Regions from separate parts of the Homo sapiens genome. Here region 1 is linked to region 2. Evidence: fine-mapped expression QTL. A gene starts in region 2. The other region holds a variant in brackets. All regions are shown on one strand. Distances are from middle to middle. Region 1 holds the start of GPR162 (G protein-coupled receptor 162). Region 2 holds the start of CD4 (CD4 molecule).

The links. PIP is the estimated chance that this variant, and not a neighbour inherited with it, causes the effect.
Region 1: its variant is fine-mapped to the expression of CD4 in cerebellum (GTEx, PIP above 0.99).

The regions. Positions count from the first base shown.
Region 1 is chr12:6,820,545-6,823,445 of GRCh38, forward strand. GPR162 (G protein-coupled receptor 162) reads left to right here and starts at 1,277. Exons shown (of 5, transcript NM_019858.2): 1 at 1,277-1,356. CD4 (CD4 molecule) reads left to right here. Exons shown (of 10, transcript NM_000616.5): 10 at 1-255. RefSeq lists an enhancer at 288-1,260. The variant C/CG (reference allele first, on the strand shown) is at 1,290.
Region 2 is chr12:6,787,854-6,790,754 of GRCh38, forward strand. It overlaps CD4 (CD4 molecule), which reads left to right and starts at 1,675. Exons shown (of 10, transcript NM_000616.5): 1 at 1,675-1,809. RefSeq lists enhancers at 1,159-1,716, 1,532-1,581.

The DNA.
Region 1 (2,901 bases), 33 kb after region 2:
CAGGACACAGGGAAATCAGGGTTACAAATCTTCTTGATCCACTTCTCTCAGGATCCCCTCTCTTCCTACCCTTCCTCACCACTTCCCTCAGTCCCAACTCCTTTTCCCTATTTCCTTCTCCTCCTGTCTTTAAAGCCTGCCTCTTCCAGGAAGACCCCCCTATTGCTGCTGGGGCTCCCCATTTGCTTACTTTGCATTTGTGCCCACTCTCCACCCCTGCTCCCCTGAGCTGAAATAAAAATACAATAAACTTACTATAAAGATGCTCTTCGTGTGTGTGTGTGTGTGTGTGTGTGTGTGTGTGTGTGTGTGAGAGAGAGAGAGAGAGAGAGACCCCTTCTCTGGGGACCAGGAATCTTCTGGTCTTTGGGGTCGGACCCAGAGGAGAGGTTGCTGGGCGTGCCCCAGGAAGGAGATGAAGTTTCCCTGGAGAGGGAAAAATTCTGTGGAGGCTGGCTACCCACCTCCACAACCCACAGGGCTCTGTGTGGGCCTGTGTGTGTGTGAGGCTGAGACTCTGTAATTACATGTGTGTGATATACCGTGGGGGAGAGACTCAGGGTTGTGTGAGCTCTCCTGGTGTATGTGTGTGGCAGAGAAAAAGGACTATGAGAAACTGTAACATGTGTGTGCAAATTGTATCCCCAACATATGTGTTTGTGTTCCAGGAGGAGGAGGCAGAGTGTGTGTGTCTGTGTGCATGCATGCGCCCACATCCTTTTAGCTTGTGCACAACCACCCCCAACTCCACAAGCAGCCCCAGTGTGCACCACAAGCCCCCTCACTCCCAAACCCAAGGCCCAGCCCTCACACAGATACACACAGTGACACACGCTTCCTCCTCCCCGAACAGCTAGCTCCTCAGTCCCCAACAACACCAGCTGCCTCTTGGAGCTTGTGTTCGTGTTGAAAACGGGAAGGGGTGGGGGCAGGACATGAACCATTTCACCAATGAAGCCGGTTCCCAGCCATCCTCCTCACCGCCCTCCCTCTCAGCGCCTTCCTTGCCCCTCCTCCCCGAGTCACCACCGTCCAGTTCCCCACCCTGCACTCGTTTCCCGCCCCCCCCCGCCCCCCACAAAGCTGTCCTGCCTTCCCTCTGGCCTGGGCTCACTGGCAGGACGACCCCGGGAGAGAGGGTCCTGGAGAGTGAGAGGGGCAGAGACCGAGTGAGCCGTGGGCTGAGCCTGGGAGGCCGGGACTGAGGGGGAGGAGGGAGGCCCGGGGGAAGGGAGGGAGGGAGAGAGGGAAGGAGGGAGGAGGGCGGGCGAGCTGGAGCCGGCAGGCAG[C/CG]GGGAGCCCGAGAGAGCCGCGTCGGGAGTGCGGTCTCCATGGCAGTGCTGGGCGCAGCCGGAGAGAGGTAAGACGACCCCTGCCTGCCCCGTCCCCTGTGTTGCCTCCCTTTCCCCCTCAAGCTGCCTCCTCTCCCCTAGGCCGGCCCCTCCTCCCCAGCCACCTGCTGTTTCTGCCCTGGAGAACCTGGAGGGGGACAGGAGGGAGGAGCCGCCTGACCTTACCCCTTCACCCCAAAGGGCGAGGGACCCCGTCGGCCAGGGAACCTCCCAGATCCCCCTTCCCACCTTCCTCTGATCTCTCCCTGTCCTTCACCTCCCTCTCTCTGTCCTTCACATCTTTCCTGCCTCCTTCCCTCTCTGACTCCCTATCTCTTTCATCCTGAGCCCACCAGCTGGGCCTGGGTGGAGGTGGGTGGGAAGGGGTCCAGGGCTGTAGGAGAGGACACTGGGGGCTGCTCTTGGCCAAGTCCCTCCACCTCCCTCTGGCTGGCCATTGCCATGGCAACTAGGGTGTACTGGGCTCCGGAGGGAAGCCAAGGGTGGGGGTGGACCAGGACCTCTTGGGGAAAGCAAGGGTCTGAGCTGCTTCCATGGGAAACAGACCCTTTCACTGCTGTGCCCCATTTTTACCCCACTTACCCTAAAGCCATTATGTGCTTCCTTACAGCCCCACTCTGTTCAGGGTTTCACCCGATTCCCTTACCCCCCTTCCCAGGGCTCACTGAAGCTCAGCATCACGCACTAAAACTGGGACCATCCTTCCTCCCATGAGAGGGAAACTGAGGCTCTGGGCCAGGGAGGAAGAGTCAAGGTCTCCCCACGGGGAGTCAGCACCTTATTGAACATTTGGCTTTTCTTCTCAGCCTCCTATTCCCTGCTCCCTCCCTCCCTCCCTCCTCCAGTCCCTCCTCCCTCCAAAGCCTCCTCTCCAGGGGGTTTGAGCTTTTCCTGCTATTTTCAGATACTACCACTTTGCCCCCTCTTTCTCTTCTGCTCAAACTCTCCTCCTTCTCCCTAGTTCCCCCTCTTTCCATTTCTGGATGCTTCTGATGTCAGCGGTTTCCCCGCCTTCAGGTTCCCTAGCACCCCCTTCGGTCCCAGACTCCTTTCTCCCATTTTCCCAGATATGGGTAGCTGGAGGGTGATCACCCAGGTTTGGGGAAGTAGGGGCTAAGCACCAAGACCCCTGCATCCAGGAGACCGGCAGGTAGGGGAGGAAGGCTGTGATGCCATATCCCAGTTCACTGTGAACCCTCAAGAGGAAACCAGTCTTGTGTCTCCCATCAGTAGTTCTGAAGAGACATTTAGGGACTTGAAGATAGGGGTGGAGTAGTGCTGAGCAGGGGATGTTCTAAGAAGGAACCTGGGAGTTCCAGCGGGAGGAGGAAGGGCTAAAGGAGACAGGGAGGTGGGAATACCTTCTTCCCTAGAGGTCTGGAAGAGTGCGGCTCTCATCTGTGTGGGGTGTTTAGCTGTCAGAGTTAAGGCAAAGGAATGTTCTGAATGACCCTCAGGGCCTTAGTAATCAGTCATGCCTATAGTTTCAAGAAAGGGGGCACAGGAGGCTGATTGGAGACCAGCCCAGGCCCTACCTTTGCCCTCTCCCTCCC
Region 2 (2,901 bases):
CGGAGGTTGTAGTAAGCCGAAATCATGCTGCTGCACTTCAGCCTGGATGACAAAGCAAGACTCTGTCTCAAAAAAAAAAAAAAAAAAAAGAGAGATCAAGACCATCCTGGGCAACATGGTGAAACCCCATCTCTACTAAAGATACAAAAATTAGCTGGGCATTGTGGCGCATGCCTGTAGCCCCAGCTACTTGGGAGGCTGAGGCAGGAGAATTGCTTGAACCCGGGAGGCAGAGGTTGCAGTGAGCCAAGATCACGCCACTGCACTCTAGCCTGGGCAACAGAGTGAGACTCCCTCTCAAAAAAAAAAAAAAAAAAAAATATATATATATATATATATAGAATGCCTTTAATGAAGCAGTAAATACTAATTTTATTAAATCTCAACCCTTGAGTACGGTGTGTCATGAAATGAGAAGTAGCACACAGTACTATATGCTACAGATGAAGTACAATGCTGTCAAATAGGGGTACTTGTGTTAATTGTTGGAGTCGCAAGCTGAACTAGAGTTTTCTTTTCTTTTCTTTTCTTTTCTTCTTTTCAAGACAGGTTCTCACTCTGTCACTCAGGCTAGAGTGCAGTGGTGCAATCACGGTTCACTGCAGCCTCAACTTCCTGGGCTCAAGCGATCCCCCCACCTCGGCCTCCTAAAATGCTGGGATTATAGGCATGAGCCACCACTCCCAGCCCCACTTTTTTCAGACTGGAAAACGCACACTCACATGTGCATCTTTAAATGATCACTTGGGCTGTGGTATGGAGAATGGCGACCAGTGAGGAGGCAGGAGCTGTTGTCCGAGCAAGGGATGATATTGGCATCTTGGATTGGCATGGTGGCAGTAGTGGTAGTGCAGAGTGACTTGGGTAGATTTTGGAGCCATTTAGAAGGTAACATCCACAGGAACTGGTAAATAAATACGTGGGAGAAGTTGGGTGAAGGGGGTGTCAAAGATTACACCCAATTTATTTTGCTTGGGCAAGTTGGTGGATGGTGAGCCCCTCACTGAGTGAGAAGCCTGGAGAAGCAGGTTTGGAGGGTGGTAGTATGCAGGTGGTATGCATAGTTGGGGATGTGTGTTGAGTTTGCTATGTCCGGTGAGCTTCCCAGTGGAGATGTCCAATGGGCAGACGGATACTCACATAGAGAGTTCATGGTAGATTCGGGCTAGAGGAAAGCACCTGAGGCCTGGCCAGAGACGCCTAGAGGAACAGAGCCTGGTTAACAGTCACTCCTGGTGTCTCAGATATTCTCTGCTCAGCCCACGCCCTCTCTTCCACACTGGGCCACCTATAAAGCCTCCACAGATACCCCTGGGGCACCCACTGGACACATGCCCTCAGGGCCCCAGAGCAAGGAGCTGTTTGTGGGCTTACCACTGCTGTTCCCATATGCCCCCAACTGCCTCCCACTTCTTTCCCCACAGCCTGGTCAGACATGGCGCTACCACTAATGGAATCTTTCTTGCCATCTTTTTCTTGCCGCTTAACAGTGGCAGTGACAGTTTGACTCCTGATTTAAGCCTGATTCTGCTTAACTTTTTCCCTTGACTTTGGCATTTTCACTTTGACATGTTCCCTGAGAGCCTGGGGGGTGGGGAACCCAGCTCCAGCTGGTGACGTTTGGGGCCGGCCCAGGCCTAGGGTGTGGAGGAGCCTTGCCATCGGGCTTCCTGTCTCTCTTCATTTAAGCACGACTCTGCAGAAGGAACAAAGCACCCTCCCCACTGGGCTCCTGGTTGCAGAGCTCCAAGTCCTCACACAGATACGCCTGTTTGAGAAGCAGCGGGCAAGAAAGACGCAAGCCCAGAGGTAAGGTGGTCAGACTCGGCTTCCTTCCCCGGAGCTGAGAGGGAGGGGAACGTGGGGCAGATGCACAGGAATGTGCTCTGCCCAGTTGTCTGCCCACAGCTCTGGCCACCTTCTCTTGCATTTCTCTTGGAACTGGTCATGAGCAGCGATTTCCCACTGGAACTGTGAGCTTCCAGAGGTCAGAGACTGTGCTAGACTCCTCTCTGCAGCCCCAGCGTGCACAGCTCAGTGTCCAGAGCAATGGGTGCTCCTTAGAGGAGTAGTGACCTAAATAGCAAGATCAGAGAGGGAGTGAAGACTGGAGACTATCCCAGGCTGGGAAAGGCGTGGAAGGCAACTAGTCGTGGGCAGTTGAGGGGAGAAGACTGGAAGAGGGGAAAAGAGGAGAAAAAGAGTGAAGAAGGGGAGGGAAAAAATTAGAAAGAATAAATAAATATAAGGTGGGAGGAAACCTATAAAAAAGAAATGATGAGGAAAAACATAAAAACAAGAAAAAGAGCAAAAGAAGTGGAATCTAGTCTAGAGAAAATTCTTGCAAAACCAATTTTCCTTAACGGGACAATCTCCAAAAATTGACACCAAATATCATACTTGCAGCATTTCATAAGTCGCATGATCTATGTAATAGTCTCTTTTAACTACCTTTTGTGTTTCTGTGTGTATTTTTAAATTTTTGTCTGCTTCTTTGCTCTTTTAAGATTTTTGAACAATGTCTAAAGGCACTTCTACTCTAGTTAGCTTTAAAATGATTCATGAAATAGGAAAGCTAAAATTCTCAGAAAGTGTTGAAACTGAGCTTTTGCGTATGAATTGCCCTAAAAGTTGCAGATACATATCTTTAGATAAATATGTCATTTAAGAAACGGATTCGAAAAGAATTGGTGGTAGGGGTCTCATGAGGCCGGGAGAGTTACAGAAGGATGTGCAGCCCCTCCTGGGCCTGGCAGGGTGTGAGGGAGAGTGAGGACTCACTGTCCCTCCTGAAGGGAAGCCCTGTGCCATCTCAGCCTTTCCGCCCTCAGACCTTTCCAGCCCCTGAGACCTCATGGCCTTGAAGCCGTGCTATCCCCAGTGTCCTCTGCTTTCCCCTCA